Homo sapiens: one gene and its partners. The protein of the gene in region 1 interacts with the protein of each later gene in a pairwise test. Each region holds a gene or a part of one and is shown in the gene's direction. Other genes may lie near its edges.

Region 1 (3,992 bases):
CCTAAAAAATTTATCTGATGTTATATGAATCTCATTGAGTTTACAAACTGTAGGTATTTTATCATAGGTACTTTATAACTTGGAGACCAATTTATTTTTTGTTTTTTTGTTTTGATGTATTACACAAAGATTTCCTGTTTTTTTCCAGGTAGGTGGTTAGAAAAAAATTATTAGTAGTTTGCTTTAGAGAAGGAAATAGCCTTACCTAATTGGCTTTAAGGTAAGAATCATTTTCATTAGTAAGATGGAGTTTGACAGATCTGGCTTTGCAGGAGAAAAATATGTATTTTAGACACTTTAGTGAATATTTTAGCAATCCTACTTTTTTTTTTTTTTTTTGAGACAGAGTCTCGCTCTGTCGTTAGGCTGGAATGCAGTGGCATGATCTCGGCTCACTGCAACCGCCTCCCGGGTTCGAGTCTTTCTGCCTCAGCCTCCCGAGTAGCTGGGACTACAGGCACATGCCACCACGCCCAGCTGATTTTTGTATTTTTAGTAGAGAAGCGGTTTCACCATGTTGGCCAGGATGATCTCTATCTCTTGACCTTGTGATCCGCCCGCCTCGGCCTCCCAAAGTGCTGGGATTACAGGCATGAGCCACCGCACCTTGCCTACTTTCTTCTTTATAAAAGAATAAGACTTGAGTAAGCAGTAGGTCATTATACTTTATTGGGTAATTTCCATGAGGCATTTGCTGGAGTCCTTATAACTGGTTTTTGTGTAAGCTGTCTTGGTTTTTTAACAATGTGCTGTATCAAATTGATAAGCTTCATAAAGTCTGTATCATAATCTCAACATATGATAGAAAAGCCAGTGCATTGTGGTTTATAATCTCTGAATTTTCTTTCTAAATCTACTAGAATTATACTAACCTTAGAAAGTTCATCTATATTTCACCTCTTTCCTGATTGTAGAGGTAATTATCTCTCAGCTATCACATGTTGTTGAAAATTAAATGATTTAACTTTTCCAGGTACTTCTATAAAATCAGAACTATTAACACTTCAAAGGTCTTATTAATAAGTGCAAGTTTTCTTCAATTATTTTTGTTATACTGATGCCTTTTCCAGCAATTGTTTCTCAATTTGCAGGGGTATAGAGAGTTAAAAATAACTTTTGTTTGCTCTGAAAAACATCTTTTTAATATATTCTAACATTTTAATTTGGCTTTATATTACAGAAACAAATTGCAACCCAAGTCTACTAAGCATAATTGGCTACAATACAACAAGCACTGTCCCAAAGGAAGGGCAGTCAGTCCAGTGGTGGCATGCTCAAGGAATTATAGGACTAATTCTCTTTTTGTTGTGTGTATTTTATTCCAGGTAGGAAAAACTATGGAATTTTTTTCTTTAAACAAGAAGTCTAGCTGTTTATTTATGAATCATTTCTTTTAAAAATGTTCTTTTTTTTCTCTCCTCCTAAACTCTCTTTCATACAGCATCCGTACTTCAAACAATAGTCAGGTTAATAAACTGACTCTAACAAGTGATGAATCTACATTAATAGAAGATGGTGGAGCTAGAAGTGATGGATCACTGGAGGATGGGGACGATGTTCACCGAGCTGTAGATAATGAAAGGGATGGTGTCACTTACAGTTATTCCTTCTTTCACTTCATGCTTTTCCTGGCTTCACTTTATATCATGATGACCCTTACCAACTGGTACAGGTATTTATATTTCATGAAAACTCTGGATGTGTGAATTCTGATGGCATTTTATGATTCTCTTGTGAAACCATGATGTGATATGAAGTACTTTTTATCCTCTGATATATTTCAAAATGTACAGCTAAATGAATAGTGAGATCAGCATGAGAAATGCAGTCTTTACTTCCTTGCTTTAACAGTAACACAAACATTGAAATAGTTCCAAATCTTGGAGAGATTAAAATAAAAATTTTCATGAAACTAATACTTTTTACAAAAATCCATGTTGATAGTGGATCTAACATTTTTTTTTTCAATTCTGTAAAGATAGTGAAGTAAAGGATACATCCTTTTTTCTCTTTTGTTTGAACTGTCATTAAAAGCTCTGAAAATTTTTAAATTTAAGTATGAATTCATTAATGTAGATAGATTCTTAGAATTCTTACAAGCCACAATTTTTACAAGCTTAGAATTCTTTCTACAAGCAACAATTTCTACAAATTCTACAAGCTTAGAATTCTTACAAGCTACTTTTTTTTTTAATCACTTCAAACTTAATCCATAAATCTTTTTCTGTTAAAAGGAAGATAGTGATTTATAGTGTTTCATTTTTGAAAGTTCTGGTTTTGTCCAAATGATTACTGAAAGATTTGGTCAAAGATTCAAATTGAACTATGTGGTTTGGGAAGTTCTGTTTTTAATAACTTTTTAATGCATAATATTAATAAACAAATTGTAAGGCGGCTCTCAGTATCAGCAAAAGATGGAGGAAAAAGATTATTCTTTGTTGTATGTCTTTGAGTGCAGCCTTTACTGATTTTTATTATTGAAAAGTATATATATTTTTTAATTCTTACACTGTAGCGTATTAAGCTATAAGAATCCAGCTGGTTCTTTTTTTTTTTTTTTTTGAAATGGAGTCTTGCTCTGTCACCCAGGCTGGAGTGCAGTGGCTTGATCTCAGCTCACTGCAAGCTGTCTCCCAGGTTCACGCCATTCTCCTGCCTCAGCCTCCCGAGTACCAGCTGGTTCTTAACTCAGATCCTTGGCTGTCACATAATAGTAGATATTAAGGCTTTATACCAGAAGGATTTTGGTATATTTCATTAACTCAAAAATCACTTAAACTTGAGATATATTTCCTTCCCAGTCTCTTAATTCTTTCTTTTTTTAAGGAGATATCTCTGAGTCATACCAGTCTCTTAATTCTGAGAAGGGAGGGGCGGGGGAGGGGGTTGGGGGAGTGGAAATCAGGTGAGGAGTTCCATATACATCTTGAACAATCTTATGTAATAGTGACATCTCATTTATCCAGAGGTCACATTCAGTTCCTCTTCTGTCTAATAACATGGCAGACATGCATAAAGTGCTTCAGAGATTATGCAAAATAACTATTTCAGAGGCCTGTATACTTTACTCCATTAAAGGAAATAACAGATTTTTACCTTCACACTAGCAGTGTGGAAAGAAAGGGAGCAGATTAGATGCAGCAATGATATATCTGAAATCACAAACTGTATACAAAGCACGCTTCTGAATTAATGAAGCTTCATAGCTTGGTGGCTGATAATTCAACCCCCTTGCCCCTTTTTAATAATTTTCCCTGAAATTTTAGGTATGAACCCTCTCGTGAGATGAAAAGTCAGTGGACAGCTGTCTGGGTGAAAATCTCTTCCAGTTGGATTGGCATCGTGCTGTATGTTTGGACACTCGTGGCACCACTTGTTCTTACAAATCGTGATTTTGACTGAGTGAGACTTCTAGCATGAAAGTCCCACTTTGATTATTGCTTATTTGAAAACAGTATTCCCAACTTTTGTAAAGTTGTGTATGTTTTTGCTTCCCATGTAACTTCTCCAGTGTTCTGGCATGAATTAGATTTTACTGCTTGTCATTTTGTTATTTTCTTACCAAGTGCATTGATATGTGAAGTAGAATGAATTGCAGAGGAAAGTTTTATGAATATGGTGATGAGTTAGTAAAAGTGGCCATTATTGGGCTTATTCTCTGCTCTATAGTTGTGAAATGAAGAGTAAAAACAAATTTGTTTGACTATTTTAAAATTATATTAGACCTTAAGCTGTTTTAGCAAGCATTAAAGCAAATGTATGGCTGCCTTTTGAAATATTTGATGTGTTGCCTGGCAGGATACTGCAAAGAACATGGTTTATTTTAAAATTTATAAACAAGTCACTTAAATGCCAGTTGTCTGAAAAATCTTATAAGGTTTTACCCTTGATACGGAATTTACACAGGTAGGGAGTGTTTAGTGGACAATAGTGTAGGTTATGGATGGAGGTGTCGGTACTAAATTGAATAACGAGTAAATAATCTTACTTGG
Region 2 (5,014 bases), about 110 Mb from region 1:
CTTAACAAACTCTTTCTTGTGCTCTGTTTCACAGCCCTGCTTTTTAGTGGAAGTGGAAAGACCTAATTAGGGAGAGAGGTTGGTTAAGTTGTAGAATATGAAGACCATTTAAAGTACCAAGCTGCCTTCTGTTCCTCTAAAAACTGCCCTTACACATGGGAGGAGTTAACTGTTGGTCAGGGCTATGTTCCCACCTATGTGGGGACTGGCTAAAGGCAGGAGGTTCAGGGGAACAGAGCTTGACCATCTTAAGGAACCCATCCCCCCAAAAATGACCAGCTACTTTGCCCAGGTATTTGATGCCAATAAGGGAATTTTTCCATAGCTGAGCTACACAGGCTTTAGACATTCTGTAGAATATTTTTTCGGTTTTAGCCTTACTGACGTTGTGAACCAGATAACTCTTTGCTGTGGGGTGCTATTGTGTGCATTATGGGATAGTTAGCAATGTCCCTGGCCCTCTAGACACTAGACACTAGTAGCGTCCCCCAACCCCTGTCATTATAATAAGAAATGTCTCCAGACATTGCCAGATATCTCCCAAGGGGCAAACTTGCCTCCATTTGGGAAGCACTGCTATTAGATGGTGCCACCCATACACCAGGGGGTCCTTTCCCTCTCATGCAAGCAGTCAGGTGACTGATCTAGATAAAACTCAAACAGTGATCATTTTTCATAATATTTTTATATTTTCTTCCCATAAATGTCTTCTCTTTGCTGGTATACCGATGAAATAAACTTCAACAGTATGTGTTTGTTGTCCCCTCTTTAGATTTTTTTTTTATTACTAGTAGGTATATTGTTGTACTCAGGCTGAGAGTAACCCGGAATTTTACATACAGCTCTGGTTAATCATTTCAAATAATCTATATGGAAGATTTTCTTAATTCACTTTTTAATGTCTTTGAGTGTACTCTAAACCATTATTGGTGTGTAGTATTTTAGCTTGAAGTAATCACATTAATTTAGCCAATGTCTATAAATTACATTTTATTTTCACTAACAAATCTTTAAATAAATAGAACAGCTGTTTTGCTTAGATGTTATAATAACAAGTGAGCTTTCTATTTTTTCCTACTAGTACTTTTTTTTTTTTTTTTTTGAGGTGGAGTCTCGCTGTGTTGCCTAGGTTGAAGTGCAGTGGCACAATCTTGGCTCACTACAATCTCCTCCTCCCAGGTTCAAGCGATTCTCATGCCTCACCCTCCCGTATAACTGGGGTTACAGGCATCCACCAACACGCCTGGCTAATTTTTGTATTTTTAGTAGAGACTGGGTTTCACCATGTTGGTCGGGCTGGTCTTGAACTCCTGACCGCAAGTGATCCTCCCACCTCATCCTCCCAAAGTGCTAGGATTATAGGCGTGAGCCACCATGCCCAGCCACTTTTAATTTTTTAATGCAATTTATTTCTCAAATCATTTTTTTCTGGTTATCTTTTAAAAGAGGCACTGTATAGGGAATGATGGCTGCTTTCTAAATCTTTGAAGCTCATGTGGGCTAATGATAAATGCCTCGCACAGGGCCAACCATAGTTTATGTGCAATACATTTAGGTGGAACTGTTTTCCATTTGTTGTTTTCTCTGTGTTTTTATAGGCATTGAAACACCCATATTTTCAAGTTGGTCAGGTATTAGGCCCTTCGTCAAATCATCTGGAATCAAAACAGTCTTTAAATAAGCAGCTGCAACCATTAGAATCAAAGCCATCTTTAGTTGAGGTAGAGCCTAAGCCTCTGCCGGATATAATCGATCAGGTTGTTGGACAACCCCAGCCAAAAACTAGCCAGCAGCCACTGCAGCCCATTCAGCCGCCACAGAACCTGAGCGTCCAGCAACCTCCAAAGCAACAGAGTCAGGAGAAACCGCCACAAACGCTATTCCCGAGCATCGTCAAAAACATGCCAACTGTGAGTAGCCAGTCATGACACTTGCAATGAAATAGTTTGACTCGTGCAATTAAGATTTTTTTCGAGGCATTTCTAATAATGTTGGAAAAGATATAAAAGATTTTTCTTTGTTAAAGACCCTGAGTCCTCTGGTTGGAGCTTGACATGAGATCACTTAAAATTCTAATATGGTTTATAAAAAGAAAAACTTTCAGGATAAAAGTAACCAAGTTTACATGCTACAGTCTTCAGTCTTTTTTCTTTTTCTTTTTTTGAGACGGAGGTTCGCTTTTGTTGCCTAGGCTGGAGTGCAGTGGCACGACCTTAGCTCACTGCAATCTCTGACTCCTGGGTTCAAGCGATTCTCCTGCCTCAGCCTCCCAAGTAGCTGGGATTACAGACGCCCACCACCACGCCTGGATATTTTTTTGTATTTTTAGTAGAGATGGGGTTTCACCATGTTGTCCAGGCTGGTCTTGAGTTCCTGACTGCAAGTGATACACCCGCCTTGGCCTCCCAAAGTTCTGGGATTACAGGCATGAGCCACTGCACCTGGGCTTTTCTTTTTTATTTCTTGAGACGGAGTTTCACTCTATTTGCCCAGGCTGGAGTGCAATGGCACGATCTTGGCTCACTGCAACCTCCACCTCCCAGGTTCAAGCAGTTCTCTTGCCTCAGCTTCCTGAGTGGCTGGGATTATAGGCACCCACCACCACACCCAGCTAATTTTTGTATTTTTAGTGGAGACCATGTTGGCCAGGCTGGTCTCGAACTCCTGACCTCAGATGATCCACCCATCTCGGCCTCCCAAAGTGCTGGGATTACAGGCGTGAGCCACCAAGCCCGGCCTAAAATTCTTTCAATGCAGAAGAATTCAAAGAAAGAATTTAAAAGAATCGGGTACTCCAGAGTACTGATCCTAAATCTTAAGAATTTTTAACAGTACTTTCATTTTACAGTGTTCTTAAATGCTAAGGAACATGGAGAGAATGGGTTTTTATTTATTATTATTATTATTATTATTTTGAGACAGAGTTTTGCTCTTGTTGCCCAGGCTGGAGTGCAATGGTGTGATCTCAGCTCACCACAACCTCCACCTCCCAGGTTCAAGCAATCCTCCTGCCTCAGCCTCCTGAGTAGCTCGGATTACAGGCATGTGCCACCATGCCCAGCTAATTTTGTATTTTTAGTAGAGATGGGGTTTCTCCATGTTGGTCCGGCTGGTCTTGAACTCCTGACCTCAGGTGATCCACCCTCCTTGGCCTCCCAAAGTGCTTGGATTACAGGCCTGAGCCACCGCACCTGGCCAGAATAGGTTTTTAAAGTGTCAGGCATAGTATAAAACTTTTTCTTCCATCTTTTGTTCAGCTCCAGGAGCTCTTCAGTTGCTGTAGTATTTTAGCTGTCCCACTGGGTATACACTCCCAAATGTGTTTGCATTATGGCATTTTAGGATGGAAATCGGTCTTATACAGCACTGTATCTATTTCCTTCCAGTCCCCAACTGCCCCACCAACCTAGATAAGCAAGGCCTCCTCGTCCCCCAATAGCACTAATCACATTCTAACATACTGTTAATTACTTCTTATGTTTATTGTTTATTTGTCTCTTCCTCTGGAATGCAGCAAGCTCAGTGAGGTCAGGAATGTTTGTGTGTTTATCAGTACAGCCTCAGCACCCCGACCAGTGCCTGCCACATGGTAGATTCTCAGTAGATATTTGTTCAGTGAATGAAGGAATGAATAATTGCCCACATGACTTGTAAACCACCTCTGGGGTCCTGGGGAGTCCACTTTTATCTTTGGAACAGTTCTGAATATTAGAAAGTTCTTCCTTAATACTGGGTAAAATCTGGTTTTCTAGCTTTTAATGAAGGCTAATCACTTTTCTAGAAAGGCAGCCTTTTAGATATTTGAAAATAGCCCTTATATTATCTGCCCTTTTCTCTAGAGAAACTTCTCCAATTCCCTTAAGGGCTCTGCATATAACACCATTCACCAATGACTGATAACTCTCAGTTCCTATTATGAATGTGTCTTTAAGTCCCCTCTCATCTTGCTTTCCACTTAGAATGAGGTTGCCAGAGCTAGAGGCAGACAGCAGGCAGGGAATATAGAGCAGGGCGAATCACCTCCGACATTCTAAACCATATGTGCACTCGTGCCACCAACGATGACAGTCCTCCCCATGACCCCTTGGAAGATGCATCAATTGTTGACTCATATTGTGAGGGAAGGAAAGGAAGTTAATATTTATTGAGTAGCTTCCAAGTGCCATGCATATGCGAGGGACGCTGTGTGCATTCTCTAAGTTAAAGAGAATAACCTAGCCCCCAGCCCCGCCACACACACATTTTTATATAGGTGAGTTCCAGAGCTGGGATTAAGTACTGTGTTAACTAAAATTTCTAAGTATACCTGTTTTTTCACAAATGCTTCTCCTAAATTGCATATTCTGTACCTCTGACTTGTGTATTTCATCTCTAGGATTCAAAAAGTTGCAAGATCTCTTACCTCTTCAATTTCTAATTATTTTTGAATCTGTATTTTTTCTTCTCAGTTTACCCATTCTGCCCAGCTTGTTGCCAGCTGTGTATTTGTTTAGTTGTCTGTTTTGCTCCTGAATCTTCATGATGAATAGAACGACCGTGAGATCTTGGGCAGGCTACTAGAACCTTTCTCTAGATTGACGTTGATCCATTTGTCAGTACTGTTGGTCAAGTTCTTCAACTATGTGCTGATCCCCTTTGCTGCCTTCACCCACTGGGCTGAAGTCCACATACACTACACTGAATGAATTCATTGTTTGCCTTTTATGAAAAAGTGTGGTCTATATGAGCTATCACTGTTTTTCCTTAGTGCTCACAAACATCCCCTTTAATAATTGATTTTAGAATCTTTGCCCTCATCCTCTACCAAACTTACTGATGTGGAGTTTGCAAAAATAAATCTTCTACTTTATTAAAAGTATTATATTTGCCCCTTTCCAGTCTTCTCAGCCATACCAGATTCTTGCATATCACTGATATTGTTCAGCAGTGTTCAGGATCAGTACCCTAAAATACAATTCAACAGAAGGGAGGCTCAAACTCAGCTAAGGGTAACCTTTTATTAACCCTACTCATC
Region 3 (5,634 bases), about 76 Mb from region 1:
GAAGATAGAGCTCATAACCTTATACAGAAAACGTCCTGAATAATTAAAATAATAACATTCAGACAAGTTCATGAACATTACTTACATTATATAAGACTTTTCAATGACCACCACCTGACACAAAACCTTAGTATACCTTTTCCAAGAGAAAACAATGTGGGGAAGGGAAGTGAATATTAAATCTTACCACTGGTTTTTGGAAAAGTTAGTATCTTGCTGACAGTTTCCCTAGAACAGAAGTAGCTTGCATAGACTTCAAGCAATATTTTATTGACATATGAAACCTGAAAAATCTTAATAGATTTCTCCATATTACACAGATTATGTCTTTCAAAATAAGTTTTGTTTTCTCGCTGGTTTGTTAAATGATGCTTCAGGTTCCTGAAGTGGTTTGTACTTAAAACCATCCCACATTTTGATTCCCATCCATTCTCCACACACAATTCTCTCCATGAATTTTTAACGAGGAATAGTCCTGTATAAAAGCCATTGAGTCAGAGGGGGACACATCAATTAAAAATAAAACCTGGAAATATCATTCAGCAATCTGCTTTTAGATCTTTTTAAGCTGATGAATTTTATTTCAGTAAAAACAATGAAAAGTAAAAATTCTCCATCATTTTCGAAAGGAGAGACATTAAAAAATAGAGGGGCTAAAAGGCAAAAATGGAAGAGCACGAAACAACTGATCATGGCTGGCTATGCTAGAATTAAAAAATAAACTCTTAAAATAGGACCAACTAACATTTACAAATGATAACGCATCAGAACTGTTCTTTTTATTTTTTTGTAACAGGCAAGAAAATGTAAGGGTAATCTTAAAATACACAGTTAAGGCTTCACAGGAAACACATGAGTATACTACTCACAAAATCCTTGGAATAAACGCTACTTGCTCATTCAAGGGCATCATCATTCCACTCTAGATGGCCTCTTAAAGTTTTTTCTTACTCATGTAGGCAGATGTAACTGCTCTTCTATGCTTTTATGACACCTAATAATATCTTCATTATAACAAGTAGCACATTATAATTGTCTTTCTCTGTCTCCCCAGCAGCCTGTAAGAAGGTCAGAACTGGGTCTTTTCAAATATATATCCACAGTCCCTGGTATTGTAGGAATTATAAAAATGTCGCAACTAATGGGTGTCCTGCCTTGGGTTTAGCAATCATATATTATTGACTTCTCAGAATCCTGCAAGGTAAACAGTATAGATGAATTACACTCAAAGAGGTCAAGTAGTCGATGCTCTGTGAGTGGCAGGTTAATAACGGAAGTCCCACAAGGTAGGTCCACAACTTGGACCCACAAGATAATGACAGTGTGGCTGTGTAAGACTATAAACCACAGAGATGATCTCAGTAAGGATGGAAAACAGATTACGTTTTTAAAAAGGTCATCCTCATGAAAAGGAAAATGATTCCTACAGAGGAATGACAGCTCGCGAAGCTTCTTAAAGTACAACATTCAAGCACCACAGCACATGCCTAAGGGAAGCATTAGAAGAGATTAGAAGGAAAAGGCCGTGGAGACCTCAATCCCTCCTCCTCCCACCGCGGGCCTGGCCTCCACCGCCACCTCTGCCAGGCGGGCATGGAAGGGGCGACCTCTCCGATGCGCACTGCCGGGCGCGAAGCCGCCCGCGCACCCTCCCCCAGCGCGGCGCGTGCCACTGGCCCGGGAGGCCCAGGCGTGGGCAGCCGGGTACCTAGCTCGGCCACGGTAGCCGCGCAGCCGGACAGTAGGAATTTGCTCGCTCGGGGCCATCTCTGGGTCAGCGGCAAAAGCCTCTCCTCCTCCTCCGGGACGGACATTCAGCAGTAGCGCAAGACGATAACGCACTCCTTCTCGCCGCTGCGCTGCACCGCGCCGCGGCGGCCGCTTCCCTGCCAGGGCGGCCCCTTTTCAACCGGCGAGTGGCCGGGTGAGGACCATTTCCCTCGTTCGGCTCGGCCGGGTGGACCCGCAACCTTCCTAGCAGTCCCAGCTGGAGTGGTCCAGCTGCCCCTTACACCCCAGAATAGAAAAACACAGCGGAGCCCAGGAGGTTACTGGGCAATGTAGTCCGCCGGGCTCCGCTACGTCTCTGATTGGCCGGCCGCGGGTCCCTCTGCGGCTCCGCCCCCGGCCTCCATGGCAACGCGGCTGGTTCTCGCCCGTCAGTCCTAGCCCGGCCCTGCCCCTCCTTGCATTTTTTCCGCGCTGGCTGAGATTCAAAGAGAAGTGGAGGTGGGAGGGAGCGACAATGGAAAAATCACCTGAAAACTGGGACAGAGGAAGGAAGCTACAGTTACGAAGGAGAGCTGCAAAAGTTGCAGCAGAAAGGTTGGGAGTCCCGACAGGTTCCGTAGCCCACAGAAAAGAAGCAAGGGACGGCAGGACTGTTTCACACTTTTCTGCTTCTGGAAGGTGCTGGACAAAAACATGGAACTAATTTCCCCAACAGTGATTATAATCCTGGGTTGCCTTGCTCTGTTCTTACTCCTTCAGCGGAAGAATTTGCGTAGACCCCCGTGCATCAAGGGCTGGATTCCTTGGATTGGAGTTGGATTTGAGTTTGGGAAAGCCCCTCTAGAATTTATAGAGAAAGCAAGAATCAAGGTATGTGGTCGTGGCAGACGGGGTCTCCAGAGGAGACAATGCTTTCTTTTTTAAACTTTCTTTCATTGACTCTTAAGTGCAGGGCTAGAACACGGGGAACATACCTGCTTGCCTCAACTAAAGGATCTAGTCATTTCTGAATTCCTCTACTAACAATTAACAACAATATCCTGTGCAAAATTTTGCGAAAGAAATGAAATACAATTGCAGCGTGCATCGACATTTTTGGAAGTAGAGATTAACTTTTCGTATTTTTACTTCATCGAAGTTAAGTTCCAAATGTGTATGTGTTAAGTAAATGTTTTCAGTAATTGGGAAAGATAAAGTGTAATCCAATTTAAGTTTGTGAAAATGAGTAATTCGTATCCAAATTGGAGTTAACACCAAAGTATTGTACAAATTGCTTGCACAGTTGGTCCGTACACAATAAACAGGCTCTGTATTTTTAGCTGACGTTGTTATTTGATGATGATGTACTCCATTTTCACTACGGCCTGAAGAGACTAGTAATCCTCCTTGTAGTAGATGTTTTTGTCTTGAAAGTATCTTTTAAATGTCTGAGCACTTTAAGGAACAGACCTTTATTAATGTCTTTTAAGTTTTATTCAATTTCCAGTCACAAATATTTTATGGTATTTGATTGTCTAATAAATTTGTATGATATTATAATTATTCTTATGAATTATAATACTTTCTGTGGTGACCCATTTTCCATCTGGTTAGCCCAATTTGTAGAATGAATTTATACGTAGTAGCATTATTTTACCACTGATCATTTGCCTTCAAAATCTCTGAGATTCCAATTTAGTAAAAAACATATAGAAAATTAAAGAGAACTAAGATGAAAATAAAAATAACCCAGAATATCACACCAGCTGTACTGTAAAAATTTAGTGTATTTATATTATTTTGGTCATTTTCCTATGTATTTACAACTATTTAATGAACAACAATGGAATAATAGTATAATACTCTTTTATGTGCTTTTGATTTTAACATATAATGTGAATGACTTTCCTGTACCATGAAATACTTTGAATCTTCCTTTTATGGCTATATTTTGTCATAGGAGGATACAATAGTTTACTTAAATCTCAATAGTTGGGTTTATAGGTTGCTGCCAAACTTTTTTCTTTCAGCCAGTGCTTCAGTGAACATTCTTGCGTGTTTGTGTGCATGTATTGATTGTGTGGTTGTACATTTTGCAATTATCTGATTGTTTACTCAGAATAAATTCCTAGGAGTAGAATTGCTGAGTCAAAGGACATGCACACTTAAATTGTTTATATGAATGTGTTACTTTTGGAAAAAGAAGTATGAATATGCAATTTTTATTTTCCATTGACTGTATGCAATTGCCTAACTTCTCAAATCCTGGGCCATACTGAATACCATAATTCTTTGCAATTTTTGCTAGTCTGATAGATGAAACATTATATCTCCTAAAGAAATACTCCTTTGTCTCCCACAGCCTTCCTTATGCATATGATCTTGATAATTTTTAAGGAACTGTTTTTTTACAAGCTTGTGTCAGAAGGCTAAATATTTGTGAGGTCTCTATTGCTTTCCTGACTAAACAAAACAAGTTATTGCTGGACTCTGTGTCTCACACCTGTAATCCCAACACTTTGGGAGGCAGGGGTGGGAGGATTGCTTGAGGCCAGGAATTTAAGACCAGCCCGGGAGATATAGCAAGACCTCATTTCTACAAAAACTAAATAGAAAAATAAAAAATTTAATCTGGTCCAGTGGCACATGCCTGTAGTCCCAGCTCCTCGAGAGGCTGAGGCGGGAGGATTGCTTGAGCTCAGGAGTTCCAGATTCCGGTAAGCTATGATTGAGCCACTGCACTCGAGCCTGGGCAACAGAGCGAGACCTTGTCTCTTAAAAAAAAAAAAAAAAAAAAAAAAAAAAAAAAAAAGAATATGACTGCATTATTTGATGTTTTACTACTAAAAGCTTTTAAGGTTCACTCTTGTCTTTTCTTGTACCCTTAATCTGGGCAGTATGATAAAAAAAAAAGCCAGAGTGCTCCCACCTTTGGTGCCAGGGGAGATTCAAATCACACAAACCTCAACCTTCATGCAGGAAGGCTCACACCAGCCTACCCCCTAACCACAATGAAACCCTAAGACCTGTCTCTTTTCACTGTTTTCTCAAGTCATTTTCAGATCAGCTTGAGAGGACTGCCCTTCTTTCCCCAGAGAAGTCTCATTGTGTATGAAATAAACCTCTTCATACCCTCTCAAGGTGTGTATGTGTGTATGTGTGTGTGTGTGTGTGTGTGTGTGTGTAAATGTAGTAATTGTCTTAACATCCAAACCAGATCTTGGGTGGGGGTCCATTCTGAGTTTTCGCAGTGGCTGCAACAGGTACTCAGTAGACTTGATGCGAAATTGCATCTAAATGGCACCTGCATAAGACACTACTTATGGCGTATTGAACCTTCAAGAAAAAACTTCTAAAACTCCATCATTAGCTAACACTCTCAGCTTCTCATGCTCCTCTAGAAGACTGAGAAGAGACAACTTTGGTGACCACAAAAACATCTTCCCATTATTTTTATTTAATCTTTGAATAGATCATGCATTTATACGGTTCAAAAAATTGTAAATATAAAAACTACGGGGAAAGTCCCTTCAACCTCTTTTTCCCTTCCACCCAGTTCTCACTCCTCACTCCCAACCTTGGCAACTGTAATTCATTTCTTATATATTGTTTCATAGTTTCTTTAACTGTATACAAGCAAATAGAATTATAGATTTTTATTTTCCGCCTTATAAGCAAAATGTGTCATATTATTCACACTGTTCCTATGTCAGTAGGGATTTACTCTTTACATATTAGTACCATATAGAACTCCTAATTCTTTGAAGATGCATGGATATGGCTACATTTATTTAATAAGTTTCCTCATCGATAGACATATGGTAGTCAGATTTCTAAGATAACCTGCAATGATCTTGCAACGATTCCCTTGTGTAATCACTTCCTTTTGAGTGTCAACAAAACCTAGTGACTCACCTCTAATGA

Evidence for each region.
Region 2: the proteins of SERINC1 (region 1) and MAK interact in a two-hybrid assay, tested with the Homo sapiens proteins (one large-scale study listed by BioGRID and IntAct).
Region 3: the proteins of SERINC1 (region 1) and CYP39A1 interact in a two-hybrid assay, tested with the Homo sapiens proteins (one large-scale study listed by BioGRID and IntAct).

What each region holds. Positions count from the first base shown.
Region 1 is NC_000006.12:122,444,454-122,448,445, reverse strand, and holds part of SERINC1 (serine incorporator 1), read left to right. Parts: intron 1-1,180; coding exon 1,181-1,325; intron 1,326-1,441; coding exon 1,442-1,672; intron 1,673-3,266; coding exon 3,267-3,402; 3' UTR 3,403-3,992.
Region 2 is NC_000006.12:10,792,894-10,797,907, reverse strand, and holds part of MAK (serine/threonine-protein kinase MAK), read left to right. Parts: intron 1-1,598; coding exon 1,599-1,910; intron 1,911-5,014. UniProt on the Homo sapiens protein: Essential for the regulation of ciliary length and required for the long-term survival of photoreceptors. Phosphorylates FZR1 in a cell cycle-dependent manner. Plays a role in the transcriptional coactivation of AR.
Region 3 is NC_000006.12:46,649,373-46,655,006, reverse strand, and holds the start of CYP39A1 (24-hydroxycholesterol 7-alpha-hydroxylase), read left to right. Parts: upstream 1-2,188; 5' UTR 2,189-2,424; coding exon 2,425-2,601; intron 2,602-5,634. Other genes in the region: SLC25A27 (mitochondrial uncoupling protein 4), read right to left, coding at 1,709-1,814. UniProt on the Homo sapiens protein: A cytochrome P450 monooxygenase involved in neural cholesterol clearance through bile acid synthesis. Catalyzes 7-alpha hydroxylation of (24S)-hydroxycholesterol, a neural oxysterol that is metabolized to bile acids in the liver.